Homo sapiens: one gene and its partners. The protein of the gene in region 2 binds, or shares a complex with, the protein of the main gene of each other region. Each region holds a gene or a part of one and is shown on either strand. Other genes may lie near its edges.

The links.
Region 1: the proteins of SEH1L (region 2) and WDR59 are in contact, whole or in part, in a cryo-EM structure (PDB 7UHY), measured with the Homo sapiens proteins. Residues at the interface, in NP_112493.2 of Homo sapiens: Asn308, Tyr309, Met310, Asn312, Lys314; in NP_085058.3 of Homo sapiens: Pro713, Asp714, Glu716, Thr717, Pro718, Arg721, Arg837, Glu840, Gln843, His844, Asn847.
Region 3: SEH1L (region 2) and NUP43 share a complex: the UniProt entries of both Homo sapiens proteins name them as parts of the nup107-160 subcomplex of the nuclear pore complex.
Region 4: SEH1L (region 2) and NUP37 share a complex: the UniProt entries of both Homo sapiens proteins name them as parts of the nup107-160 subcomplex of the nuclear pore complex.

The regions. Positions count from the first base shown.
Region 1 is NC_000016.10:74,911,892-74,919,149, forward strand, and holds part of WDR59 (GATOR2 complex protein WDR59), read right to left. Parts: intron 6,118-7,258; coding exon 6,038-6,117; intron 4,369-6,037; coding exon 4,236-4,368; coding exon of another isoform or gene 4,211-4,235; intron 4,104-4,210; coding exon 3,979-4,103; intron 472-3,978; coding exon 307-471; coding exon of another isoform or gene 256-306; exon of another isoform or gene 226-255; intron 1-225. UniProt on the Homo sapiens protein: As a component of the GATOR2 complex, functions as an activator of the amino acid-sensing branch of the mTORC1 signaling pathway. The GATOR2 complex indirectly activates mTORC1 through the inhibition of the GATOR1 subcomplex.
Region 2 is NC_000018.10:12,957,940-12,965,197, reverse strand, and holds part of SEH1L (nucleoporin SEH1), read right to left. Parts: intron 2,039-7,258; coding exon 1,827-2,038; intron 763-1,826; coding exon of another isoform or gene 703-762; intron 1-702. UniProt on the Homo sapiens protein: Component of the Nup107-160 subcomplex of the nuclear pore complex (NPC). The Nup107-160 subcomplex is required for the assembly of a functional NPC.
Region 3 is NC_000006.12:149,743,434-149,750,921, reverse strand, and holds the start of NUP43 (nucleoporin Nup43), read left to right. Parts: upstream 1-4,392; 5' UTR 4,393-4,426; coding exon 4,427-4,546; intron 4,547-4,859; coding exon 4,860-4,982; intron 4,983-7,206; coding exon 7,207-7,284; intron 7,285-7,488. Other genes in the region: PCMT1 (protein-L-isoaspartate(D-aspartate) O-methyltransferase), read right to left, coding at 966-1,194. UniProt on the Homo sapiens protein: Component of the Nup107-160 subcomplex of the nuclear pore complex (NPC). The Nup107-160 subcomplex is required for the assembly of a functional NPC.
Region 4 is NC_000012.12:102,116,995-102,125,195, forward strand, and holds the start of NUP37 (nucleoporin Nup37), read right to left. Parts: upstream 3,121-8,201; 5' UTR 3,056-3,120; intron 1,590-3,055; 5' UTR 1,525-1,589; coding exon 1,369-1,524; intron 1-1,368. Other genes in the region: PARPBP (PCNA-interacting partner), read left to right, coding at 6,895-7,047. UniProt on the Homo sapiens protein: Component of the Nup107-160 subcomplex of the nuclear pore complex (NPC). The Nup107-160 subcomplex is required for the assembly of a functional NPC.

The DNA of each region.
Region 1 (7,258 bases), on a different chromosome or scaffold from region 2:
TCACATATTTACAGGCAATATTTCTCAAATCATATGCAATCATTGTGCAGATTTTTCTGAGGAAGGGTCCATAATTTTCATTAGAATTCAAAGGAAGTCTATGACCCAAAAAAGGTTAAGAACCACTGCTCTGATGTTTTCTGCACAAAGTAAATGGCAAGTTCAGAGGTTACGTTGCTAATACTAGTGTGTGTACGAAACAGATGACTTCCGAATCTCATCTACTGGAGTTTTCATTCTTCTTTACTAATCCATCTAGACAATGATGCAGAACAGCAAGGAGAATTTGGGAACCCAGACCCCCACCTTCAGCAGCTTAGCTTTCATGGTGGATGTGATGGTTGTGGGGTTAATAAACTGGAAGGAAGGGGCGGCGTTGTTTGGGTACTGTGCAGGGAACTTCACCAGCATCTTGACACGATGGTTGCTGCAGTGCACAGACACTGTGCAGCTCCTGTCTGCCGCATCCATCTGCAAGAGACAAATCCACAATTGCTGTAGAAACAAACCATAAAGCGTCTTTCGATGCAAGCACATTTAACTGAACGCTCCATGTTCCTGGTAATTGAATGAAGGGAAAGAGTCTACAAAGACAAATGTGTGTGGAAGACAATTCATTTTCAAAAAGATTCTTAAATTTTCATACCAGATTCTTAAAATTTTCAAACCAATGGAATAAGCTCAAAGTTGCTGAGACCAGCTCGGTCGGGGTGACCCTAAACCAGCAGTGCCAGAAGAATTAAAGACACACACACAGAAATATAGAGGTGTGGAGTGGGAAATCAGGGGTCTCACAGCCTTCAGAGCTGAGAGCCTTGAACAAAGATTTACCCATGTATTTATCCACAGCAAGCCAGTGATAAGCATTGTTTCTATAGATTATAGATTAACTAAAAGTATTCCTTATGGGAAACAAAGGGATGGGCTGAAATAAAGGGATGGGCTGTGGCTAGCTATCTGCAGCAGGAGTATGTCTTTAAGGCACAGATTGCTTATGCTATTGTTTGTGGTTTAAGAACGTGTTTAAGCGGTTTTCTGCCCTGGGTGGGCCAGGTGTTCCTTGCCCTCATTCCGGTAAACCCACAGCCTTCCAGCGTGGGCATCACCACCATCATGAACATGTCACAGTGCTGCAGAGACTTTATGGCCAGTTTTGGGGCCAGTTTATGGCTAGATTTTGGGGGGGGGGGGGGCCTGTTCCCAACATGTCCCCCTTCTTTGATTTGCAAAGTGATAAAAGCAAAGGCAGCTTTGTCACGGTGAGCTACTTCTTGCAGGAGTCAAGATCCACATCTGCAGACTACACAAAGACAAACAACACAGAGGGTCAGTTTATGGCCAGATTTCAGGGGGCCTGTTCCCAACACAAAGTATTCTTTTTTTTTTTTTTTGAGACAGGGTCTCACTTTGTCACCCAGGCTGGAGTGCAGTGTGGCACAATCTCAGCTCACTGCAACCTCCACCTTCTGGGTTCAAGTGATTCTCCCACCTCAACCTCCCAAATACTGGGACTACAGGCCACCATGCCCAGCAAATCTTTGTTTTGTTGTTGTTGTTGTTGTTTTGCTTTTTGTGTTTTGGTAGAGATGGGGTTTCGCCATGTTGGCCAGGCTGGTCTCAAACTCCTGACCTCCAGTGATCCACCCACCTTGGCCTCCTAAAGTGCTGGGATTACAGGCATGAGCCACCACGAAGTTCAAAGTATTCTGACTTTAACAAAGCTTCCTCCCTCCCAAAGCTGTGGGGTAGACTGAAACTTGTTATATTTACTTTGAGATGGGAAAATAAAGCAGGAAGAAGTTAAATACCAGACTCAACTTAAAAAGTGCTCCTGGGAAAATCCATAGGGGAAGAAAGTAGATTCGGGATTGCCACGGGCTGAGGGAAGGGGAAATAGGGAGTGACTGCTCATGGGTATGGGGTTTCTTCTGGGAATGATGAATATGTTCTGGAATCAGACAATGGTAATGGCTGTACAACTTTGTGAATATACCCACAACAGCCAGATTATATACTTTAAAAAGCGGAATTTTGGCTGGGCACAGTGGCTCACGCCTGTAATCCCAGCACTTTGGGAGGCCAAGGTGGGCAGATCAACTGACATCAGGAGTTCGAGGCCAACCTGGCCAACATGGCAAAAACCCCATCTCTACTAAAAATACGAAAAAAAATTAGCTGAGCGTGGTGGCGTGCGCCCATAATCCCAGCTATCTGGGAAGCTGAGGCAGGAGAATCGCGTGAACCCGAGAGGCAGAGCCTGCAGTGAGTCACGGTAGCACCACTGCACTCCAGTCTGAGCGGACAGAGCAAGGCTCCATCTCAATAAAAAAAAAAAGATGAACTTTATACTGTGTGAATTATATCTCAATAATTTTTTTAAAGTACTCTCGAAGAAAGGAATCAAGATCTTAAACTAGATCACTAGGTATCCACACTGTCCTCAAATGGGACAAAGGGAGTATAAACTGACTTGATATAGATCACTAATTAAGCAAAGAATCCTTTATATCTTTTCATTTCTTGTGTTGCCAACTAGAGACAGCAGCTGGAGTAAAGAGAAAAGAACCACATGTGGCAAATCTGGAGACCTGGATTCACATGTTGTTTCTTCCACCAAATAGCTGCTGACCTTGGACATTTCTTCTCTTGATGTCTCCGTTTCCTCAGCTGTAAAGTGAGGCTAAAACCACTTACAGCAGACTATTTTTTTTTTTTTTTTCGAGACGGAGTCTTGCTCTGTCGCCAGGCTGGAGTGTAGTGGTGTGATCTCGGCCTCACTGCAAGCTCTGCCTCCTGGGTTCAAGCGATTCTCCTGCCTCAGCCTCGTGAATAGCCGGGACTACAGGCGCACGCCACCATGACCAGCTAATTTTTGTATTTTTAGTATAGACGGGGTTTTACCATGTTGGCCAAGAAGGTGTCGATCTCTTCACCTTGTGATCCGTCTACCTTGGCCTCCCAAAGTGCTGGAATTACAGGCGTGAGCTACCGCACCTGGCCAGCAGACTTGTTTTAAAAGCCACATGAGATAGTTATGTAACAGCACATATTTGGGTAAAGGAAAAACTAATCAAGCTTTAAAACTCCTTTCTGGAGAGATACTCAATTTTCTGAAGCAAAGACTTTCAATACTTGCCCCCAAAAAAGTAACTGTTCCACAGGCTAAGCAAACAAAGAAGTTTTGGTTGCCTTCTTACTGTGAATCTAAATTACCAGGAAATGGCCAGCCTGTGAGAGAAGATGGCACAGCCCAGCACAGCACAGCACAGCACAGCACAGAGTGCCCTGGACGGGCTGGAGGTTTGGCTTCCCAAGTCAACTCTGTCCCCAACTTCAGCAGCAACCTCTGCCAAATCACTAAGCCTCCAGGGCCTAAGTATCTTCCTCTACAGTAAAATGAGATGCTGGAGCATCTAAGGAGGAGCTAAGGCACACGAGCATCAGGTTCTCCTTTGGCTCATCTTAGGAGAAAAGAATAGGGGTAGAAAGAAAGTCTGCATCTCTTTATTTACTTATTTATTTATTTATTTATTTAATTATTTTATTTATTTTTTTTGAGACAGAGTCTTGCTCTGTCACCCAGGCTGGAGGACAGTGGTGCGATCTTGGCTCACTGCAACCTCTGCTTCTCAAGTTCAAGTGATTCCTGTGCCTCAGCCTCTCGAGTAGTTGGAATTACAGGCTAATTTTTTTTTTTTTTTTTAAGTGGAGACAGGGTTTCACCATGTTGGCCAGGCTGGTCTCAAACTCCTGGCTTCCTGGTTTCAAGTGATCTGTCCACCTCAGACTCCCAAAGTGCTGGGATTACAGGCGTGAGCCACCGCGCCTGGCCAGAAAACCCAGGAAATAAAAAAGCAAGCAGAGAGAGTTCTGTTAAAGCTGCAAAGCTATTTGCTAACTGAAATCATTGCTGAAATGGTTCCCTCTCCCACAAACTGCCATCAGCAAACATGAGATACAGTTGATTAAACTAAGTACCTCCACATTGACATTCCGGATTTGCACATTGATCAGGGAGAATTCCTGCTGCAAGGTCTGAGGCAGCCCCAGTTGATCTGATTTCCTCTCTTCCAGGAGATTTCTAGGGGGATCTTCTTTTAGGGCTAGCAGGAGAGAGAAGTTCAATGTTGGAAAGCATTTTTGAAAATGAAACAGAGAACAGGTCTGGGGTATCTGCCACAACTCTGCAATGCGTAGAGTGGCACCTTACCTGAGACATCAGTTTGACAAATTACCTTCTTCCTCCCCATGGCTTGCAGTGTGCTGGTGATCTGTATCTTCAGTGTGCAGGGTCTTCTCAGGTTCCGGCAGAAGGGAAATACTCTCAATGAACTCATCAACACCATCTAATATGTCATTTGCACAAAGCTGCAACAAAGGGTAGAAGATGTAGTTCTAGAGAAGTCCGTGGAAATGATTGTCATGTCTGATTAAAGAGTTCTGACTTAAAAATGGGAAGGGCAAAGGATGGGGATGTGTCAGCCAAGAGCTGACATAATCAAAATAGATTTTACCCATTGCCAACTCTCCCTGGTTAAACACCAGGGATAACAGACTCTATTATTCAACACTGGAAATTTTTTCATCATGTTCAGAGTTTATGCAAGCCTCAGAAAAAAAATTAATTTAAACTCCAAGCTTTGATGGAGTTATTCAGCTAATCCAGGAGCAAAAATATCATAACCGGCCAGGCGTAGTGGCTCATGCCTGTAATCCCAGCACTTTGGGAGGCCGAGGCAGGTGGATCACCTGAGGTTAGGAGTTTGAGACCAGCCTGGCCAAGAGGGTGAAATGCCGTCTCTACTAAAAATACAAAAACTAGCCAGGCATGGTGGCGGACGCCTACAGTCCCAGCTACTCGGGAGGCTGAGGCAGGAGAATCACTTGAACCCAGGAGGCAGAGGTTGCAGTGAGCAAAGATCACGTGGCTGCACTCCAGCCTGGGCAACAGAGAGAGACTCCATCTCAAAAAAAAAAAAACGAAAACCATAACCTCAAGGCATTTGGTGCAAATTGTACCTTTTGGAAAAAACAGATTGAAAATGCAATAAGGTAATGAGATTTGATCAAACTGCTCAAGAGTGACTTCATACTAAGCAGTGTTGAAATTTTTATCCAGTATTTTCTATTCATTCTGTGCAAAGCAATGTACCAAGCGCTGTGGGAGATCCAATACAAGTGAGACACCTTCCCACTGTCAAGAAATTTAGCCATCAAATGAGGAGAGGACAGAACCCTGTGATAAGGCAGAGCAGAGCAAGGGCCACCAAAGCAGCTCATGCCAGGTACTACTGTGTGTGGTTCATGTAAGAAACAGATATCATTTATCGGGAAAAAATTACAAACAGCTTCATAAAAGCAGTGTTGCTGATAGATGTAGAAGCCTCCAAGCATTTGCAGCGTACAAGGGTAGGCTTCTTAGCCCATTTAGAAGAGAAAGAAATGAACCCACAGGGCACATACTCAGGGAGCTACCCATACTATCTTATGCTAGAATAAGGAGGGGAAAGACATTTAGAGGCTCTCTGGCCTTAAAGTGCTGAATACTGAAGTTGGTTCTTAAAGACCTCAAAGCCTTGGTGTGGTACACACCAGCTACTCAGCCAACCAGTAAGTATGTATTAAATGTCTATCCTGCCGGGGAAGGTGGCTCACACCAGTGATCCCAGCACTGTGGGAGGCTGAGGCAGGTGGATCACTTGAGGTCAGGAGTTGAAGACTAGCCTGGCCAACTTGGTGAAACCCCGTCTCTACTAAAAATACAAAAATTAGCCGAGTGTGTTGGTGGGCGCCTATAATCCCAGCTACTCAGGAGGCTGACGCAGGAGAATCGCTTGAACCCGGGAGGCAGAGGTTGCAGTGAGCCAAGATCGTGCCACTGCACTCCAGCCTGGGCGATTCAGTGAGACGCACTCTCAAAAAAAAAAAAAAAAAAAAAAAATTGTTTATCCTGTAACCTCTAATTTCCGCAAATCCTGAATCTTACACTTTTTGGTGGATTCAGGTACATTTCTCCACAATAGCACTGCATACATACCCTCTGCATCTGGGAATCCACCCGCCACATTCTCAAGGTCTGATCCCGGGACCACGTCACCAGTTGATAGTCCTTGGACCCTAGAAATCACCAAATAAGAATCCTGGAAATTCTTCTGGATTCAACGTCTATTTGCTAGAGGTTGAAATGGAGTGAGATTCATCCATCCATTCAACAAACATCTACTGAACATTTCTCATATGCCAGGCACTATTCTAGGTACCAGGACTACAGCATGAATAAAATAATTTCTATCTTTATAGATCTCGCATTCCAGTGGTAGAAAGAGACAAATATCTGATAAAACATCTGGTATAAAGAATAACACAGGATAAGAGGACAGAGACTGATGGTGGAACTATTTTTAGATAGAACTCCCCAAGGAAATCACATTTGAGCAGAAACTTAAATGATGTGAAATACTAACTGGCAAATTAGCAGGTAAAGAGCGATGCTGGGATTTAATGTCACACTAAACTTTCACCTCTGCAAATGTTCGTCCTTTTACATGCTCTCGAAGAGCTGGAGATGAACATATTTTTGCAAAACGGGTTATTTCAAATGCATCATGGCATCTTACCATTCAAAAGAATTTTTTGGTAAAGTGATGTATCTCTTTGTAAAATGAATAATCAATCCTTAATGTACTTAATTGACTGAATCATATTTTCATCTTAACTCTGGTCAAAGGGAAATTATCCTGAAAAGGTTCAGGGTGCTTTATGAAATAACTTCATGAAAGATCAGGACATTTGCGGATAATTATGCAGTATCTAGAATCTCCTTCATGGCCACCTTCAGAGAGCAAAGATTTTAGAAATAATTTCATCCAATTTCTTAATTTTATGGATGGGGAAACTGAGGCAAGAGAATATGATCTGTCCAAGGTCACAGGGTGAGTGGGCAGGAAAACAAGGGCCAGTTCTTATTGGTTCCTTCTCTGCATCACCACCTTCAACCAAAAATTCACTCTTCAATATTTCATACATCACTAGGCACAGCCAGCCAGACAGCAACTATTCTGAACCACGGCTTGTTACAAGTGCCACCATCTTGCCTCATGTCCACATCAACAATCTTCTGACCCTACATCTGGCTTCTCTTCCTGCCCCTGACTTTGACGAAAAGGTATGCCTAATTCCTTTCTAAATGTTATAAATTAACTCAACCCCTCGACCTGTGCCTCCCCCGCTGGTCCCAAGGGGCCCTTTGCTTCCCCGA
Region 2 (7,258 bases):
TACTAAAAATACAAAAAATTAGCCAGGCGTGGTGGCAGGCACCTGTAGTCCCAGCTACTCAGGTGGCTGAGGCAGGGGAATCGCTTGAACCAGGAGGCGGAGCTTGCAGTGAGCCTAGATTGCGCCACTGCACTCCAGCCTGGGTGACAGAGCGAGACTCCACCTCAAAAAAAAAAAAAAAAAAAAAAGAATGAGGAAATGGAAGGGGCAATGTGAGGGGGAAGCAATAAACTAATTCCCTCTTTTTTAAGAGAGGGGAAGCCAGGCACAGTGGCTCACACCTGTAATCCTAGAACTTTGGGAGGCCAAGGCGGGCAGATCACCTGAGGTCAGGAGTTCAAGACCAGCCTGGCTAACATGGACAAACCCCGTCTCTACTAAAAATACAAAAAAAACTAGCCAGATGTGGTGGCGGGCACCTGTGATTCCAGCTACTTGGGAGGCTGACACAGGAGAATCGTTTGAACCCAGGAGGCGGAGCTTGCAGTGAGCCGAGATCATGCCACCACACTCCAGCCTGGGCAATAGGGCAAGACTCCATCTCAAAAAAAAAAAAAAAAAAAAGAGACGGGAGTAAATATATAGTCTAAAAATTGATAAATATGTGTAGAGATATATATATTATTTGAAATTATAATAATTACCAGTATAACTCCAACAACTATCAACATCACCACAAATAAGATATCTATCTAGTCATACCTTGGGATGTGGAAGTTGTATAAATGTGCTCTATTCATCTTTTCTATCAGTTTGGATATTCTTTAATGATAACATAGCAAGAACATGTGGAAAAATAGCAGAATAAAAATTTTTAAAAAAAAGATAACATAGCAAGAACCAAAGGTATAAGTAAATCCTTTAAAAATATACTAGTGACTACCAGAATTAAAGTCTGAAAACAGAACTATTGACAGCATTTGTTTTTAGGGGGTAAAGGAACTTTACCTTTCTTTTTGTATTCTTATGGATTATTTCAATTTTTTTCTTCACCAAGTGATTCTTATAATTGTTTAAAAACAGTTTAATAAAAAGCAACTATGGTAATATTCATATAGTCATGCTCTATGCAGCAGTTAAAAAGAAATGAGGTAAGACTAGATATATTAATATATGGAAAAATGCCCACAATGTATCTTTAAGTGAAAAAAGCTAATTGCAAGGAAGGAAAATGTAAGGGTTTCTGGCTGGGTGCAGCAGCTCACGCCTGTCATCCCAGCACTCTTGGAGGCCGAGGCAGGCAGATCACCTGAGGTTAGAAGTTCAAGACCAGTCTGGCCAACATGGTAAAACCCCATGTCTACTAAAAATGCAAAAATTAGGCAGACGTGGTGGCGCATGCCTGTAATTCTAGCTACTTGGGAGGCTGAGGCAGGAGAATTGCTTGAACTCAGGAGGTGGAGGCTACTGTGAGCCAAGATGGTGCCACTGCACTCCAGCCTGGGCAAATGAGCAATACTCTGTCTCAATCAACCAATCAATCAATCAATCAAATGTATGGGTTTCAATATCTGGTGTTCTGTGTCTACTTGTGCTAGTGAATATCTGGGCGTGTTTGCATATATGTGTTTATGACAACATTAAATAGTTATTTGCATATGCATAGAAAACATCCAAAAGGTTCACATGAAAATATTTACAATGCCGGCTTCCTCTGTTGAGTGAAAACAGGGACAAATGACATGCCTGGGTGAAAAATGGAGAACATATACTCTATATATCTTGAGAAGAAGCACCTTTGAGAGAATAAATTATCAAATTGTTAGCTTAAAAGTTACTAGTTTATTTTACTAGGATGTTATCAGAGGTTTAATATGTAAACTTACCTTGAAGGGTTCCAAGAAATACAACTACAGCTTAGCTTACATGAGATCTCATGCTGCAAAGACCACTGGCTGAGATTCATAACATCTGGTGCCTCATAGATTCTTACTATACCATCTGCGGAACAGGTTGCTAACATAAGACCCATGTGCTTGGGAGCAAACTTCACATCAGTAACAGATGTTCTGCTATCCACCAGAGTTGTCCTTTTAACCTAAAAAAAAAATAATAACAATTTAAATTATATACAAAAAGAAAGCATGGTAGAGTGGAAAAGACACACAGACTCTGGAATCACACAGAAACTCCTCTATCATTCACTAGGTATATAAGCTTGGATACATCTCTGGGCCACAAGTTCCTACAAGTACATGGCAAAATACCACATATATAGCTGGGAATCACTAACAAATTAGTGAGCTATAATTAATTACTCCCTTTAATGAAAAAAAAGTCTACCTCCAAAAGCCTACCTTTGTTATATAAGTAATCTCTCTTAAGCAAACTGATCACAAAAAAAAAAGAAAATGTTAGAATTTTCAGACAAGAAGTTTTGTCACACAAAGCATGCTGCAAGCATTAGACCCTTTAACTGTAAATGAGTTGGGCGTGATGGCTTACACCTGTAATCCCAAAACTTTGGGAAGCCGAGGCAGGCAGACTGCTTGAGCTCAGGAGTTCAAGACCAGCCTGGGCTACATGGCAAGACACCGTCTCTACTAAAAACTAAAAAAAAAAAAAAGCCAGGTGTGGTGGTGCACGCCTGTGGCCCCAGCTATTCCGGAGGCTGAGGCGGGTGGATCGCTTGAGCCAGTGGGGCAGAAGGTACAGTGAGCAAAGATCGCACCACTGCACTCCAGCCTGGGTGACAGAGTAAGACCCTCTCTCAAAAAAAAAAAAAAAAAAAAAAAAAAGAAAGGCATGCAATTTCTTCTCTCAAGAATAATTTTCTGTTAATCCCATTTGGACCACTATTATTATTATTTTTTTTTTTTTCTTAGGGACAGGGTCTTGCTCTGTCACCCAGGCTGGAGTACAGTACCATGATCATGGCTCAAGTGATCCTTTTGCCTCAGCCTTCCCAGTAGCTGGGATGACAGGCACCTGCCACCATGCCCAGCTAATTTTTCTTATTTTTATAGAGATGGGGGGGTCTCACTATGTTGCCCAGATGGGTCTCAAACTCCTGGCCTCAACTGATCTTCCCACCTCAGCCTCCCGAGTTGCTAGGATTACAGGTGTGAGCCACTGCACCCAGCTACCATGCACTTTTAAGTGAAGGCTTTTAACAGGGACCAAAAGAATGGTAGAAAGCAAGCTTTATGATCACTGTAAAATTCCAACATCACATTTAAAAGTTATCTTCTGGCACACAGATAAGATGAAACTTTACTAAAAACATCAATAAGCTCAGGTGCAGTAGCTCACGCCTGTAATCCCAGCACTTTGGGAGACTGAGGCGGGTGATCACTTGAGGTCAGGAGTTCAAGACCAGCCTGTCCAACATGGTGAAACCCCATCTCTACTAAAAATATTCAAATTAGCCAGACATTGTGGCGGGCGCCTGCAATCCCAGCTACTAGAGAGGCTAAGGCAGGAGAATCGCTTGAGTGTGGTCGGCGGAGGCTGCACTGAGCCGAGATCATGCCACTGCACACCAGGCTGGGTGGCAGTGCAAGACTTTGTCTCAAAAAAAAACTAAGTCAATAAAGTTTAGCAATCAACAGATTACTGTCTATGGTTACCAAAATCCTTCTTAAAGAGTCTCAACATTAAAAGGATAATATTACATAAACTTCAAAGATAACATCTTAGCAAACTTTTGTCTACAGACACCACTGAATAATTAATACAAACACAAATGTTGAGAAAATAAATGCATTTGTTACAGTAGGTAGTCAGACATGAGCAGGGCAGCAGAGGACCCCACCCCACCAGGAATGTCAAGCAACCATCAGGTGATGATCAGGCAGTTGTTAAACTTTCTCTCTAAACTAATCATTGGTTGCAGCCAGTGCCAGGGAAAGGTAGTCTCCCAACAGATAGAAACACCTGAAACTGGTGATCAGCAGCTTCCTGATAAGATCTGAGGAGTTGGATGACTGGGCTCAAGCATGTGCACTAAGAGGAAAAATGGTGGAGCTTAACTGATCTATGACCTTCTAGGAACATTCTGTTAAGGGAAAAACGCCTCAAGTGAGCATCTGCGCAACTCCAGTAAACACACTGCACACGCAGCCCCTCCCAGGCACTAGTGGGCCACTGCACATGCGGACTGCCCACCCCAAGGGAAGAATCAGAGAAGAGACGCAACCCCTGGGAAGCATGCCAACGTGTAACAACCCAAGTCCAAGATCAAACCATGCATTTGACTCTCTCAAGTCACCCACTTGGCCCTCTTCCAAATGTATTTTACTTCATTTCTGCTGTAAAATTTTTTAACAAATTTCCACTCTGGCTCTAAAACTTATCTTAGTCTCTTACTCTGCCTTATGCCCCTAGGTGGAATTCTTTCTTTTGAAGAGGCAAGAAATGAGGCTGCTGCAGACCCATATGGATTTGCCACTGCTAATATATTAATGAAAGATGACTAAACTAAATACAAATAAGTATCTTGAAATTCAAAGAAAAGTCCTTCTTATGCCACCACTCCCAAATCCAATCTATAGTATACTGAACTGACACACCTCAGACTTAACGCCAAAAAAACTTTTATAATTCTATAAATTTCTATTCCTTCCTCCCCATAAGCAGCTGTTTGGCTTAGGGAAGCCCTAGTGCAAAGGCAATCAGACATACTCCTCCCCTGAGAAGAGCTGTAAAACAGTCTGAATAGCCACTCAAGCTACAAAGCTACCGGAATTAAAACAGTGTGCTATTAGGACAAGGAGACATACAGATAAATGTCCACAAGAGAGCCCAGAATGCAATCCTCCATATATATAGCCATTATTTTCAACAAAGGTGTCAAGACCATTCAACAGGGGAAAGAATGGTCTTTTCAAGAAATGGTGCTGGGAAAACTAGATTTCAGCACCCTAACATTTTTTAATGACTGAAATAAATAATTTGTATCAGGCCCTTGCTTGCTTGCGCATGTTAACCACTCACTTTTTGCTGAATATCCCTTGTTGCCACAATATAATGATAAACTGTTGATGTACTGCTTCTTTGTCAATCAAGAGAAGATAACTTCAGCGTCATGTAAAGAAAAATGTTGCCAGAAGAAATGAATGGCTTTAAGGACACTGTGACCAGCTGCTAACAACCAGACATCTGGTTGCTCAAGGCGTTACCTGAGACCAAAGAAACACAGACTTTTCCACTGGATTCTGTGAAACTCCCCCTCCCTTACTAGATCTAGTCACATAAAATCTACCCAATGCTTCCTTTTGTTTAGATGGATTCGAGAGATCTTGCCCTCCCATCTTCTTGCTTTAGCCAAATCGAATAAACCTTTCTCTATCTCCAAGTACCGGTGACTCAGTGTTTGCTCTCAGCTCCACATTGGGGATACAAGCCTGAATTGAGGATTCTATAACAATCTTAGAAGAAAACATTGGGGAAAGTCTTCATGACACTGGATTTGGCAATGCTTTCCTGGATATAACACCAAAAGCATGGGAAACAAAAGAAAAAAATTTAGATAAACTAGACTTCAAAATTTTAAAATTTCGTGCATCAAAGGAAACCATCAAGAGTGAAAAAGGCAACCCACAGAACGGGAGAAAATATTTGCAAATCATTTACAGGTTGTGCATATCAAATCCAAAAATCTGAAATCTGAAATGCTCCAAACTCCAAAACTTTTTGAGCACTGGCATGATGCTCAAAGAAAATGCTTATTGAAGCATACCGAATTTCAAGTTTTTGGATTTAGAATGCTTAACTGGGGCTGGCCACGGTGGCTCACACCTGTAATCCCAGCACTCTGGGGGGCCAAGGTGGAGGATCGCTTGAACCCAGGAGTTCAAGACCAGCCTGGGCAACTCTATTAAGTAAATAAATAAGTAGGCGAATGCTTAACTGGTAAGTATAAATGCAAATATTGCAAAATCCAAAATCCAAAATCCAAAACATTTCTGGATCCTAGCATTATGGATAAGGAATACTCAACCTATAACAGATAAGGGATTAATATCCAGAATATATAAAGAACTCCTATAACAACAAAAAACCCAATTTAAAAAAATGGGCAAAGGATATGAATAGTATTTTCCCCAGGAAGACATACAATTGACCAATAAGCACATGAAAATAAGGTCAACATCAGTAATTATTAGAGAAATGCAAATCAGAACCACAATGGAGATGCCACTTCACAACACAGTCACTAGGATGGCTACAATAAATAGCACCACAACAAGTGCTGATGAAGATTTGGAAAAACTGGAACCCTTGAGCATTGCTGGTAGGAATGTAAAATGGTGTAGCTGCTATGGAAAAGTCTGACAGTTCCTAAAAACGTGAAACATAGAACTACCATATGAGCCAGCAATTCTACTCCTAGGTATATTTCCAAAAGAATCGAAAGCACGGTCTCAAACATTTATCTGTACAACAATGCTCATAGTAGCAGTATTCACAATAGCCACGAAGTAGAAACAACCCAAGGGTCCATCTACAAATGAATGGATAAACAAAATGTGGTATACACACACAATGGAATATTACTCAGCCATAAAAAGGAATAAAGTTAATATATGCTACAAAATGGACAGACCATGAAAACATTTTACTTAGTGAAATAAGCCAGTTGCAAATGGACAAATACTGTGATTCCACTTACATGCAGTACCTAGTCAAATTTATAGACAGACAGTTGAATAGGGGGTAGAGGGAGGAGGAAGGGGGAGGCATTCTTTAAAAATATGGAGTTTATGTTGGCAGTGATGAACAGTTTTGAGTACAGATAACAGTGATGGGTACACAGCACTGTGAACGTAATTAATTCTACTGAATTATACCATTTACAAATAGTTAAAATGGGCCAGGCATGGTGGCTCACGCCTGTAATCCCAGCACTTCAGGAGGCCAAGGCAGGAGAATCATTTGAGATCAGGAGTTCGTGACCAGCCTGACCAACATGGTGAAACCCTGTCTCTTCTAAAAACACAAAAAAATTAGCCAGGCATGGTGGCACATGCCTGTAGTCCCAGCTACTCAGGAGACTGAGGCAGGAAAATCGCTTGAACCCCGGAGGCGGAGAATGCAGTAAGCCGAGATCCCACCACTGCACTCCAGCCTGGGTGACAGAACAAGACTCTGTCTCAAAAAAAAAAAAAAAAAAAAAAAAAAAAAAAAAAAAAGTTAAAATGAGGAATATTATGTTATACATATTTTACCACAATAAAAAATTGCATCATGGCCCTCGTAGTGGCTCACGCCTATAATCACAGCACTTTGGGAGGCCGAGGTGAGAGGATTGCTTCAG
Region 3 (7,488 bases), on a different chromosome or scaffold from region 2:
ACAAGATATGATTACTGCATAGTAGCGAATAATGCTATAAATTCTGACCAGTGAGTTTATTATAGACTGCGGCCCTTGTAGTCTCCCAACAAAACGGGGACGCTATATTTCGATTTAAAAAAAGAAAGTGACACAGCACTCATCCTATCCTAAAATTATCATCAGAAGAAGGAATACAGTAACTAAGGAGAGTGATATAAAGAAACTCCACATAAGGTTTTTAAAGCCTATGGTAGCCCTGAAAAAAGTTAGAACATCAGACACACAACCCTCTGCTGATCCAGGACCTGCAAAGGCTCCTGAAATACAAGTCTCTCAGGAACAGCATCCCCTGTTCTTTCTCCGCCCCGCACGGAGCTTTCCACTGGACAGCCGCCCGAGAAATTTCTCCCAGCATCTGCAATGGCAATACTCTCATCTTCCTCCCCTCGCCTGTATCAGACGGTGGCATCTCCCTCCAGGGGAAAAAACGGAGGGCGGGGGAGGCTGCATAAGAGGGAAAGCTTGCAGCGAGGTTGATTATGGAGGAGGAAGGTGAGAAAAATGCAGGGGACGAGGGTGGGGTCTCCTGAGCGCCAGCCCACTCTCCATAAGGCCTAGCCCACACGCTCCCACCCCGAAGGCACGCCCCTCACAAGCCGGACCCGGACGCGGACCTGAGTGACAGCAGCATCACCTGTACTGCACTCCCTCCCCCAGGGCCTGCAGGGAGACGACTGCCCCTGCCCCCACCAGCAGCGGCCCCTGGCTCTTTCTCTCCCCTTCCAGTCCACGTCGTCGACGAGTGACAGGTCCCGAGGGAGGCGACTGCAAGCGCACGCCGTTCGGGACTACCGGGGCAACTCTGCGCCGAAGCCCTCCAACAGGCGCGCGGGGACAGACAGAACGTTCCGGACGGCCCAGGGGGACCCGGTCCAGGCCCAGCCTGCCCCAGCTGCCCTACAACGGGCGGAGGTGGCACTTACTGCGGAGATTGTGGATTAGCTCCGAGTGGCTGGCGCCGCCGGATTTCCAGGCCATCGCTAAGCACACTCGGAGCAGGTACAGAACCACCTTCAGCGCGACGACGGTGCCCAGCAGTTTTCCCAAGAGTGAGACCACCTCCCACACCGTCACCGCCCCGCTCGCGTCCCCGCTGTAGCTGCCGCTGTTACTGCCGTCGCCGCCGCTGCCGCCACTGCGCGCTCCCGGCATCCCCCGCGGCACGCATGCGCTCTGTGACGCCGCGCGGCTTAGGGTGCGGCCGGGTGGGGCCGAGGGCGGGGGAGGCGTGTGGCCCAGCCGCCCGCCCCTGTGGCTGCTACCGCTGCCAGGGGACTGCAGGGAGGCCGGGCTGAGTCAGCGCCACTTCCGCTGCTGCGTGTCCCTTTCTGAGGCCTCGGACCGCACCGCTTTCGCCCTGCGGCCCGGCTCGGTAGCCTGATCAGTCGCGTTCCCGGCTGTGTCTCCGGTCACCGAGCGGGACGGCGGGATGGCGGGGTCGATCTGTGCAGACGCTGCTAGTGGTTCCGCAGTCGTCGCTGGGTCAGCTGTTTCGAGCGGCGGATCTGCTCCTATAGATGTCCAGATTGTTAGACGGTGGGCTTCATCCGTCCTACCTCGCCCAACCCAGTTGACTAATATTTGGGTCGGTGGAGCCCGAATAATACAATAAGAATAAAACCCAACGACAAAGGCCCTCTCTAACCCGAGTACACCGGCCTCTGGCTTTGTGACAAGCACGTCACTGTTAGGCTAAGCAGAGACTTTGGAACCCCGGTTCTAAAGCTCTCAGAGTGGAAGAGTACCAGGACATGGGGGTGGGGGTTGGGGCAAAGCTTTGCTCCCTTAGAATAATACCAACGTACAGAGTTGCGATTGGTTAAAAAATACCACTGTGTCCTTTGGTGAACGTGTTATTCTCCCGACGTAAGTGTGCATTTCCACCTAATTAAGCCTCACAAATTCCACCGTGGCTTTATTGCTCTCAGCTCTGCAAGACCATGAGTGAGAAGCTCACTGAGAACATTGCTTGTCGCGTCCAAATCGCTGACTCCTAATTAGACCTGAGACTGACAGAATCCAGCCATCATCTAGTCCAGTAACTTTTTTTTTTTTTTTTTTTTTTTTTTTTGAGACGGAGTCTCGCTCTGTCGCCCAGACTGGAGTGCAGTGGCGCGATCTCGGCTCACTGCAAGCTCCGCCTCCCAGGTTCAGGCCATTCTCCTGCCTCAGCCTCCCGAGTAGCTGGGACTACAGGCACCCGCCACCACGCCCGGCTAATTTTTTGTATTTTTAGTAGAGACAGGGTTTCACCGTGTTAGCCAGGATGGTCTCGATCTCCTGACCTTATGATCCGCCCGCCTCGGCCTCCCAAAGTGCTGGGATTACAGGCATGAGCCACAGCGCCCGGCCTCCAGTAATCTTTTAGAAGGAAACAAAGCTAAGACATCTGTGCCACTATATCAGCACAATTTTCAAATTCTAGTTCTTATCCGATTTTGTAAAATGTGACACTGGCCTGCTTCCAATCCAAAATCAACATTACCTATTTTCTGGGATTATGTGACCATAAATGAAACTACAGGCAAAACTGGTTTCTTTTTGTTTTTTTGCTTTTGATTGAGACGGAGTCTCACTCTGTAGCCCAGGCTGGAATGCAGTGGCATGATCTTGGCTCATTGCAACCTCCACCTCCCAGGTCCCGGTTCAAGCAATTCTGCCGCAGCCTCCCGAGTAGCTGGAATTACAGGCACGCACCACCATGCCCAGCTAATATTTTTGTATTTTTAGTAGAGACAGGGTTTCACCATGTTGACCAGGCTGGTCTTGAACTCCTGACCTCGTGATCTGCCTGCCTTGGCCTCCCAAAGTGCTGGGATTACAGGCGTGAGCCACCGTGCCTGGCCAAAACAGTGTTCTTTACTTCAATATTAAACATGAATAAAATTGTTGATTTGGGACTGTAACCCACTTAATATTTTCCATTTCATCTTTCTACAGTTTCTTGATGATCTTCCATTTGGAGAAAAGAAAAAAGTCAAATCCTTGATAGGAAACTGGTAACTCTAAAGCTGACCCAGATGGATTGCATTTACATGCAGTGCTTCCGTAAACTGTCCCTGTGAAGTAGGACTACCAATATCACATAAAAACAACAGTAGCATAATGGCCCTTTTTAAAGAAATAACCAACATACAGTTATGAATACCTATAGTGTAAAAGAGCTTCATTTTTTAGTTGAATAAGTCATATCTCTTGTATTCAGTAGGATTTACATTCTAATGGGGGAGGAATATGCATCTAAAGAAAACTAACATAAGATATATCCAAAATATATGTCATTAGTGGTCTAGATATCAAATGCTAGCTCACGCCTGTAATCCCAGCACTTTGGGAGGACAAGGCAGTTGGATCACCTGAGGTCAAGAGTTCGAGACCAGCCTGGCCAATATGGTGAAATCCCGTCTCTCCAAAAAAAAAAAAAAAAAATTAGCCAGGCATGGTGGCGCACACCTGTAGTCCCAGCTACCCTGGAAGCTGAGGTGGGAGAATCACTTGAACCTGGGAGGCGGAGGCAGAGGTTGCAGTGAGCTGAGATTGTACCACTGCACTCCAGCTTGGGCCACAGAGACCCTGTCTTAAAAAAGAAAAAAAATGGTGTTGATTTAGATCAACATTGGCTGGGGTCGTCAGGAAATGGTAAAGGAAAGAACAGATCCTTGAAGGATAGGCAGGATTCTGAGGAGTAAAGAGGAAGGGAAGAATATTATAGGTGTAACCAAAAGCACAGAAGGAACCTAGAAAACTGATTCCTGGGCCGTTGACAATAGGTATCACAAACTTCATTCTTAATCATGCACGTAATTGAATTGATCAAAGCTAGGCAATTGGCATCAAAACTAAAACTGGAGTCTTTCAGAATTCCAACTCCAGGCTCTGACAGTGTGTATTAACTTTGAAGCAAAGTATTTGTTTGGGAGACAAGAGGGAGAGGTTTGGGATAGTAGGTTGGCACTTTATTCGAGGTACTTCCACGAGTATTTAAGGATTTTTGAATCGTTTTCTATGCGCAGTGACCTGCAACTGCTTAGGTGTGGTTTCAAGGTGGTTTCTACTGCATTGTTTTTGTTCTGTTTTTGCACTTAAATTTTACACTGCACAATTATTGAACACAAGAAAATACTGACATTGCAGATTAGGAGCAAGTCCTACTGCTCAAAGGCCAAAGCGCTCTTGCCTTTGCTCAGAGCTGCTCTGTGAGATGGGTGGGCCTCTCAGTCTAGGTACTGACTGTGCCCACACTGGCTATCGACGAGAATTGACTCTCTGCAGCCACCGTCTCCGTCCTAAAGTCCCATCCAATCAGGGTTCCGCGGGAAGAGGCGGTGCTGAGAGGCGCGTACTGTGCTTGCTTTTTGCAGTACCTGCTGCGGCCGCTTTCGGCATGGAGGAAATTTATGCGAAGTTTGTGTCCCAGAAAATCAGCAAAACCCGCTGGCGACCGCTGCCTCCGGGAAGTTTACAGACCGCGGAGACGTTCGCTACAGGATCTTGGGACAATGAGGTATCGCCGCTGATAGGGACGAGCCCCTACCTCCTCCCTCTCTCCGGTTGAGCTGACCCCTGGCCTTCCGCGCGCCAACTCCCACCTTCTGGTTCTTCTCGCACTTTTAGGTCCCCCGGACCCCTGTCTCAGGCGCGGTTGCTCCGTAGCTCAGAGCCGGTGATGGCATGCCTGAGCCTCGTATCTCGTTGTGTTTTAAACTCACCATACCATTTGAGATGTTTTGGAGCAACATTTCCGGACGGGAGCACAACTTTTATTTTCCGAGAGTTGACGTTTATGTCATCTCAAGACAAAACTTTCTGTTTTACAGGAAAATTATATTTCACTGTGGTCTATTGGAGATTTTGGAAACTTGGACTCTGATGGAGGGTTTGAAGGAGACCATCAGTTATTGTGTGATATCAGACACCATGGTGATGTAATGGATTTACAGGTAAATCTGTGTAGCATCCAAAAGCTAACTTTGAAAGTCCTGAGTAATACATTTAAACAAGCAGAGCATCATAAAAGTTGTCTGGTGTCACCCCTCGTTTACAGAAAACTGAGTGCTCTGTAAGTTATGATTTGCCCAACATCATTTAGCCATTTAGTGGCAGAAAAAGGACTGGGAAAGGGGATGTAGATTTAATCATACTTTTTTATTAATTGACTGTCGACTATGTGCTAAATACCGTTTGGGGAGCTTTACAAAAATTAATTATTGTTGCATGCCAGTGAATCAAGTATCGTTACTTTGTTTTACTAATGAGAAAATTGAGACTAATATATCTTGAGCATGTACTATGTGACAGATACTGTGCAGGGGGATAACATCATTTTGTTTTTTGAATTCTCATAACAACTCCCTAAGTAGAGATTAGTGCTCCCGTTTTAAAGATTTACCACGATTTAGTGAACTTAACTTGGCCAAAGTCTCAAAACCAGTAATGAGTGGTGGGGATGAAATTGAGTTTTCTTTTTTTTTTTTTTTTCCAAGATGGAGTCTCGCTCTGTCACCCAGGCTGGAGTACAGTGGCATGATCTGAGCTCACTACAACCTCCGCTTCCCGGGTTCAAGCGATTCTCCTGCCTCAGCCTCCCGGGTAGCTGGGACTACAGGCGCAGGCCACCATACCCGGCTAATTTTTTGTATTTTTAATAGAGACGGGGTTTCACCATATTAGCCACGATGGTCTCTATTTCCTGACCTGGTGATTTGCCTGCCTCGGCCTCCCAAAGTGCTGGGATTACAGGAGTGAGCCATGGCGCCCGGCCGAAATTAAGTTTTCAAATCCTGGTGTGGAGAGCCCCTGCATTTTCCATAGAAAGCTACCTAGCCCTGGTGCGCGCTTGTAATCCCAGCTACTCTGGAGTCTGAGGCAGGAGAATCGCTTGAACCCGGGCGCAGAGGTTGCAGTGAGCCGAGAGTGCGCCAGCTTGGGCAACAAGAGCGAAACTCTGTCTCAAAAAATAATAATAATAAATAAATAAATAAATAAATAAATAAAATAAAAAAGAAAGCTATCTAGCTCTAGGAAAGATACATTTTTTTTTTTTGGAGACGAAGTCTTATACTGTCACCCGAGCTGGAGTGCAGTGGCGAGAGCTCAGCTTACTGCAACTTCTGCCTCCTGGGTTCAAGCAATTCTCCTGCCTCAGCCTCCCGAGTAGCTGGGACAACAGGCACATGCCACCATGCCTGGCTAATTTTTGTATTTTTAGTAGAGATGGAGTTTCACCATGTTGGCCAGGCTGGTCTTGAACTCGTGACCTCGTGGTCCACCCGGCTTGGCCTCCCAAAGTGCTGGGATTACAGGTGTGAGCCACCATGCCCAGACGATATTTTCCTTTCCTTTTTTTTTTTTCTTTTTTATGACGAGTCTTGCTCTGTCACCCAGGCTGGAGTGCAGTGGCTCGATCTCGGCTCACTGCAACCCCACCTCGTGGGTTCAAGTGATTCTTCTGCCTCAGCCTCCTGAGTAGCTGGGAGTACAGGCACATGCCAGCACGCCCAGCTAATTTTTGTATTTTTAGTAGAGATGAGGTTTCAACGTATTGGCCAGGCTGGTCTCGAACTCCTGACCTCGTGATCCGCTTGCCTCAGCCTCCCAAAGTGCTGGGATTACAGGCGTCAGCCACCGTGCCTGGCTTTTCTTTTTTAAAATTTTTATTCTTTTTTTGAAACTGAGTCTTGCTCTGTCAACTAGGCTGGAATGCAGGGGCTCAATCTTGGCTCACTGCAACCTCCACTTCCCTACAACCCCAACTCATTTTTGTATTTTTGTAGAGACGAGGCCTCGCCATCTTGCGCAGGCTGGTCTTGAACTCCTGAGCTCAAGTGATCCGTCCACCTAGGCCTCCCAAAATGCTGGGATTACAGGCGTGAGCCACTGCACCCAGCCAGGAATAATATTTTCCTAAGGTTTTATTGTGTTGGTCCCAAATTAAATCAATTGTGGGTGAATGTGTCTAGGAAAAAATATTGTTTATTCATGAAAATACTTTGTATGGCAGTTTGGCCTTTCAGCTTCATTAACACATTTTATTTCCTTAGCACTCATGGCTCTTTGCTTTTTAAAATTGTTATAAGATTTGCTACTAATTGAGTTAAATAAACAAATGGACTTCCTCCCTGCTAATATTTCTGAATCTTTAACAAGCAGAAATTTTCTCTTTAGTTTTTTGACCAGGAAAGAATTGTCGCTGCTTCATCAACAGGATGTGTAACAGTTTTCCTTCACCATCCAAATAACCAGGTAAAGAACTTTAGTTTGAGAAGTGATTTTTTTTTTTTTTGAAATGGAGTTTTGCTCTTGTTGCCCGCGCACTGGAGTGCAGTGGCGCAGTCTCGGCTCACCGCAGCCTCCACCTTCTGAGTTCAAGTGATTCTCCTGCCTCAGCCTCCCAAGTAGCTGGGATTACAGGCACGTGCCACCACGCCCGGCTAATTTTATATTTTT
Region 4 (8,201 bases), on a different chromosome or scaffold from region 2:
CCGTCTCAAAACAAAACAAAACAAAAACAGAATTGCCTTCTCAGTAAAGGAGGAAATAACATTTATAATAACTATCACTTTAGTGATAGTTATTTTAAATCTTTGAAAATTGGACACTTCCAAATTACCGTGCTCATTATAATTTGAGAAATACGGTTCTATTAATAATATTCTGCTAGGCCAGGCAGGGTGGCTCACACCTGTAATCCCAGCACTTGGGAGGCCGAGGTAGGCAAATGACTTGAGGTCAGGAGTTCGAGACCAGTCTGGCCAACATCATGAAACCCCCTACTAAAAATACAAAAATTAGCTGGGTGTGGTGGTGCATGCCTGTAATCCCAGCTACTTGGGAGGCTGAGGCAGGAGAATCAACTGAACCCGGGAGATGAAGGTTATAGTGAGCCGAGGTTGACCTCCAGCCTGGGCGACCAAGCAAAACTCTGTCTGAAAAAAAAAAATAAAAATAATAATAATACTCTGATAGACAAAGGATTAACCAGATAGTCCTGAGGGTTGAACCTTCATTGTTCCAAGTCTCTCTTACATGTAAAACTAGCTTTCCTCTGGGAAAACATGGTTTATGTTCACCACAAAGCAATCTTACTTTGGTGATTAAACCTGAGAGTGTTACCACTGCTCGTATCAATGACAACTAAAACATACATATGGATTACAATGTTGTCAGATGCCCTCTTGGAATTTTTATTTAGTATATTTACATATACTAAAATTCAAGCATTAGTTTCCTCATGTTTACAGGAGATGCTAAATATCTTATTCAAGGTCTCATAGCTAGTAAGAAGTAAGTAAAGCAGGAGTAAACATGTAGGCATTCCAGTTCTAGAATTCATGCTCTTAATGGCTATGCTTAACTGCCTGCTCAATTAATATGACTCCATATTCTGCATACATTAGATGCACAAAAAGTATGACAGCATACTAATAGGAAAGCTGAATATTATAAAAGCTATAAAATCTCCTGGAAGATTGTTTTTTGGGCTCTCAACATTAGCTGGTTTTGTATGTCAAAGCAGGATGTAGAAAAACCGTAATTAATTGGATCTCATTTATATTGTTTTTTTCCTGTACATACCAATGTTCAGTTAATCATAGCCTTCACTTATCAGAATATTCCATTAATGATCATGAGGCAAAAGTGAAGCCTCATACCATTCTTTTTCACTATCTATATAATGTTTACATAAATCTCAGGCACATATAACTGGGAACATCTTTCTCTATGGATCTTATCTTTTTTTTTTTTAACATTCAAACTCAATATACTTTCAAAGTTTAGATTTGGTTTGTGTAAGTTCTCTTAGTAGTGAAATATGTTCACTGTCATTCGGTGCAGTTTTGTAGACTAACCTGAAACGTACACGTGCCAATGACCACATAATTATTGCCACCATATGCAATTAGGTTTCCTGAATCCCCATTCTCAAAGGGATTAAATTCTACCACATGCACATAATCTTCACAATCCACAGTGTAGGCAGCATTTCTTGAGGCATCTTGCTTCATCTTGTATGTCAAAATTCAAGCAGTTGTGAAAATTAAATAGCCTTCTACTGGACAAGGTCACGAAACTGTGGATTAGAGCACAGGTACAATTACAATGGTCAATATGTTAGTCATTCAGCAAATGCATCAAAATAAGGTTGTGGTGTTACAATGAGACAGAAAGCTCAAAAGAAACATTTAAAGTACTTATCAAGGGACAGAAACTGCAGGAAAAATATTAAATCTAGTTATTAATGGTTCCACATTTGCTCCACAGCTCTTTCCCATATCTGTGATTCTAGCAGACAATAACACTGCAAAGTTCTGTTTAGATTATCTAAAACAAATAGTATTTCATCTGAAGATGGAATCATTTTAACAGCAAATGTTAATAAAAATTAATAACTTTTATGAACCACTATTTGTAGGTACCATATTAAGCATTTTACTGACATGATCACATCTGGTATCTGTACAAATCTAAAGGCAGGTACTACCTCTGGTCTCCATTTTGTAGATGGAGAAACTGAGGCTTCAGTAGGTTAACTAACTTGCCAAGCTCATAAGCAGGGCCAGGATTTGGAAGACTTCATTGTGTGTGGAGAACCAGCGCTAATGAAGAAAAAAACAGCCTCCTGGCTTGAAGGAGACCACAGTTTAGGGATAGTTATGACTCAACGTGAAAAGGGCTATAATATAAACAGATAGAAAATACAGGATCTGTTGTTAAGGAGTACCAAAATGTGTGATATAAAAATAATGTTCAGGGGGTTGGGCGGAGGGAGAGCATCAGGATAAATAGCTAATGCATGTGGAGCTTAATACCTAGGTGATGGGTGTGCAAACCACCATAGCACACGTTTTACCTTTGTAATAAACCTGCACGTCCCGCACACGTATCCCGGAACTTAAAAATTAAAATAATAATATTCTTAAAACTAGGCAGAAGACCTTAACCTGTCAGGGACTAGTGTGCATTCTGGAAGTAGCATTCCCACATGAGAATTATGGGTTTTAGAGTTTTTGGTTTTTTAAAAAATTCGACACAAGGGTTGTCCTGAAAACAGCTGGACTCAGTAACAAACATATCAAGCACCTTAAGAGTATGTACTGAGAATGAGTCCCACCTCGAGACGCTTATAAACTAGTAACTTTAGGAATGGACATCAGGGACTGGAGACTTTTGAAGGGTGACCAGCAAGTGTTATGGACACGGAGACAGAGAGGTATAGAAGTGCAAGAGATTCGAGGTCACGAAATTGTTCCGTCCCTACACCTACTGCTCATTAAAGCAGTGGCCGGGGCCTCACCGTACACGTTGGACAGGACTTGCCCCTGTAAAACTACAACGGCAGAGAAGAAGGGAGGGAACAAGATAAGTCTCTGCAATGAGCGCCGACACCTCTCCCCGGGCCAGGCGAGTTCCTCAAGACCCCGCTCCCACCTCCCGGGGCCCGAAGTGGGAAGGAAGAACTCCTGGGAATAGAGTGGCAAGGCTGGGCGGCCGGCAGAAAAGCATCCCGGCCTCTCGGGCTCCCAGCTCGATACGCACCGCAGAGCGCCAGGAACCGACCAGAGGCAGGCTGGTCTTCCTTGGGGGCTGCCGCGACGCGCTGTGGCTCTGCTTCCGGGTCGGAGGGCGAGCGCAGCGATTGGCTCCCGGGGCCTCCCGCGAGGTTTGAACTGTATTCAGCGGCGACAGCGGCGACTGCGGCGGCCGCGGGAGGGCATCCCGTTGGGGATCCTTCCGCACACTGAAGAGTACGTCTTCGGGTCTACCCCTAATCACGTAAGTCTCGCGTCTGCCCTACCTGCCCTGTCGCATTTTTAAGTGGTGATTCAGGCTGTGGCTTTTGAGGGTGTTTTGCACTGTAATACCTCGGTCGTAGCAAAGTGCCGTGGGACCGAAGTATTATGGTGCAGTGACTTGACGCTCGAGCCTGGTTGGGCCTGGGGGCTGTAGGCGGAGTTCACAGTATCTAGCGATGGAGCTGGTAGGTCCTGAGGGTTCGTCTGCAGCTTGGAAGACAGGCCCGTAGAGGCCTGCTTAACTTCCATTAGTTAGGCAGGAAACCTGGGTTCTAGTCCCACTATGTACACGGACTCCAATTCCTCAACTTTCTCCTACTCCTGATTAGTTACAGCCTCCCAAGGAACCTTTGGGACTTGCACTCGAACACTGATAATGATGTTGAGTGCAATTTTTAAATTGAGCACCTACTAAATGCCTGGCACTAGGTGGGTTATGTACTTGTTTCACTAACGTCTCATTCTGTGAGGTAGGAATTCCCTTCCTGGTTTTGCAGGTGAAGAAACTTATGCTCATTAGAGATTTTAAATACCGAAGGACTACAGGTCATAAAGGGGGAGCCTGGAAGTGATATCTGACTCGGAAGTGTAGTTCTTTCAACCATTTCACACTGCCTGCCCAGTGACAATTTTCTGTCTCACAGTTTTTGCTCTAGAGCAACTTGGAATCCAATTTTTTAAAAACAAGTGTTATCGCTGCTGCCTTTGGCTACTGTTTTTTTGTATAGTGCAGCCTGCCATTCAGAGTGCTTGCATATTTATTGTCTCATTGACTTCTCACAAGGGACTGGAAGGCAAGTATTTCTGTGTGATGATGCCTCCACCTAGGAACCACGTGTAAGGCTTATGGCATAGGCTCCCACAGCCAGCTAGCTACAGGAAGAGCTGGGACTAGACCAGGGGTTGGCAAACTGGCTGTGCTGCCTGTTTTTGTGCAGCCAGCTCCTGAGCTAAGAAGGAGTGTTACGTGTTTATATGGTTGGGGGAAAAAATGAAAAGAATAATGTTTTGTGATGTGTAAAAATTACATGAAATTCAAATTTCAGTGTCCATAAAAAAAGTTTTATTGGAGCACAGCTATACTCATTTGTTTGTTTATGTATGTCCATGGCTATTTTCACACTAGAAGGTCAAAGTGAGTAGTTGTGCATGCCTCAAATATTTACTGTTTGTTCCTTTAGAAAAAATTAGCTGATCCCTGAATGAGACTCTTGGTTTTCTGTCACCATAGTAATGCTCTTTTTTTTTTTTTTTTTTTTTTTTTTAAGACAGAGTCTCACTCTGTCACCTAGGCTGGAGTGCAGTAGTGCTATCTTGGCTCACTGCAACTTCCGCCTCCCTGGTTCAAGCGATTCTCCTGTCTCAGCCTCCCAAGTAGCTGGGGTTAGAGGCACACACCACCACACCCAGCTAATTTTTAGTAGACAGGGTTTCACCATGTTGGCCAGGTTGGTCTCGAACTCCTAACCTTAGGTGAGCCTCGGCTTCCCAAAGTGCTGGGATTACAAGTGTGAACCACCATGCCCAGGCAATGCTCTTTTACTTTTAACTCAAAACAACTTAGAAACTCATAATGCATGATAATAGCTAATGTGCTTTTATACATGCCAGGCACTGTTCTAAAAGCTTTACTTGTGTTTATGTCGTTGACTTGTCATAAAACCCTATGGGATAGGGTTTTCATTTTCATTATGAGGAAGCTGAGGCAGGGAAAGGTGATGTAACTTGGCCAAGATCTCGCAGCCAGTAAGTGGTGGAGCCACATTTCAGAATGGCCTAATTCCCAAGTGAGTCTTCATTCATAGCAATCAAATCTCATAATACTACCTTTAAATAATACCAGTAAGTAATTTACTCCTAAAAATGTATTTCAGGCAAAGTGACCATGTCACTGAAGCTGACAGTTCTTCACTTTCTTTTTTCTTTCAAGAGATGAGGGTGATTTTTTGAAGAGAAATACAATTCTTAGCTATTTACTAGGATTTGCATTTATGTAAATAATTAATCTCTAATCTTCTACCTGTATCTTTAAGTTGCATCATAGATTGTGTCTATAATTTAATTATATTGCAAGTGGCATGTATCTTTGCTCTTGATTATACAAACCAAAGTAAACATCTAGGATTCTGTTTATGCCACATAAAAATAGAAGAAAAGGATAGCAGAAGGAGTCAGGAAATGGAATAAGTACAGGAAAATACCCAAAATAAGATGATGGGCATGTGAGTATGTTGAGACTTGAGTACTTAAAGTAGGAAAAAAACTTTTAGCAGGCATGTCTGTAAACTCAGAGAAAGGAATTGGATGCCTTATATAGTCTTGGGTATATGAAACATTGGCACTACCTCAAATTATTTTGAAAGGCTTTTGTGTGCATCAGGAGAAGTTACTTAACATGATGCTTTAAGAACACAGCTTATAGAGTTAGACATATTAAGTTTATGCTGTTTGTCCACTTACAAGCTGAGTGACGTGGAGGTTATTAGGTAAAATAAGGATAATAACAGACCTGTCTTATTGGACACTTATGACAGTCGAGTGAGGTAATCAATATTAAGCTTTTGAAAAGTATCTCCACCAAGTTAGCTCCTAAATATTAGTTATTTTATTGGTTATGTAGTACGGTGTAACAAACCATTTCAAAAGTTAAGGTTTTAAAATAACCATTTCCTTCTGATTCTGTGGATCAGCAGTTTGGGTGGGACACTGCTTGGTGATACTCTAGTGGTCATACAGGACACAATTCCTCCTGTTGTAATAGGTGGTGACAACACATGTGAAATGTCTACCAGGGAAGCTTATTAGAGACTTAATGCCCAGGGTTTTTATTGGGGGCTAAATGCAAAGGCATCCACTGTCTGACATGTACCAAAATTCCAGACTCGCAAGTGTTTAGCATAAACTATATTGTTTGTATGAACAGTTTAGCACAGTGAACCACTCTTACTGGAAACACTCCTGAAATCTAAGCTCCCAAACTGGACTCCAGCTTCAAAGGAGAGCATTCAGGCCTATTGTATTAGTACTTCTGCACACACCACTTAAGGCCTAAGCTCAGAACTCCCACAGCGTCATTCTTGCCACATTCTATTGGTTAAATCAAGTCACAAGCCTGGTCCAGATTCAAAAGGGTAGAAAAATAGGCCACCTCTTTTGGGACAACGTAGGATGGGAGGAAATTGGCTTTTTAGGTTTTTTTTTTTTTTTCCCAATTTATCAGACTTATTACCTATCTCAAAACAAATATATATATTTAAATACAGCTTTAATTAGGTATATTTGTAATTATAAGTTTGCAGTAAATTTGCATGTCTGTTTTTGTGTGAATTTTCAGAATTGAAGGCTACATTTTGTTCTTTCAGAAGGTTTGGCTTAAGAAACCAAAGGGGAGGGAAATATGATTGCGCAGAAATTGTATTATTTTGTTTTCCTAAATTTAATTAAAAGCAATCTTGGTAAATATGAAATGACCTCTCATTCACTATATGTTTTTCTCTATCTGTGCTTGCCTATACATGTTAAATGTTAATTTCAGGTTAACATAAGATACTTTAACTTTGTATTCTGTCCTACTTTAAGATAATGGCTGTGTTTAATCAGAAGTCTGTCTCGGATATGATTAAAGAGTTTCGAAAAAATTGGCGTGCTCTTTGTAACTCTGAGAGAACTACTCTATGTGGTGCAGACTCCATGCTCTTGGCATTGCAGCTTTCTATGGCGGAGAACAACAAACAGGTTGGTAAACTATATTTGGGTTAACTTGTTTTTTTAAAGCAAAATTTCATTGCTGCCCATTTGAATAAACTTAAGCTTAAGAATATTAATTTCTTTACATTATGTGCCCTTCTGTGATAATACACCATTTTCACAAATGCCTCTGTGTATCTGTGTCAGAATGTTATGATAGAATTTGAAATGAATTATTTCAAAATTAAGCTCTTATGTATGGTTATACACGGGACATGCATATTTGATGTTTAATAGGAAGATTTAGGATAAACATGTAACTATTATTATTGTGGTCAAATTATTTTTATTTAATAAGACTTTTTTCATTCCCTAAACTTTTAAAAACTACTGGCTCTTGTACCCCAATCCTGGAAATTCTTCCAATCTGCACCGGGATACTGGAAACTGCCTTTAAAAAATTTCCACAAAGTGATTCTTACTTAGGTAGCTTGAGCCAAACTAGCGTTTGGATTTAAGCCGTAGATTAAGGGTTAGAGGTGTTCAGATGAGAGAAGGATGAATGTAGGATAGAGTGGTAAGGAAAGGCTTTGTGATATTAGATAGATTTTAGATAAAGGAAGAGAAGGCTGTAGAGGAGGTATGATGAGGAAAGTCAGTTCAGAAGAAGGGTTCAGGGGAATCAAAGTCATGGTATGAACTTGGCAAAGATACTGGCTTGACTAGAGAAGAGGATTTTTGAAGGGTAGAATTAGCTTCAATGGGTCTGTTGGGCTAGATATTGAAATGACATTCTGATGAGTTATTTTAATTTTATATGTCAGTAGTTTCCAGATTTTTAGATTCCATAGACAGTAAAATTTCTAAAAAATTATTAGACACTGACAGATTTTAACCATTTCTCATTTTTGCAAATAAGGCCATTGAGAAAAAATAGTTACTATATACTATGATCATCATTTTGAAAAAGGAAGAATATTTTAACACTTAAAAATTAAAAAGTATAAAATCTTAAAACAGGGATAGTGTTTTCTACCTGTGAATAGTTGGCAGTTTTGCATATTTTAAACAATGCATGTTAAGATAAATTTTGAATCTCGAAAACAATGACAAAATGTTATTTTATTTTATGTAGTCAGTCATTTTTTGAACAAATATTGAGTTTTTACTGTGTGTTAGACATCATTGTAAAAATTGGGAAT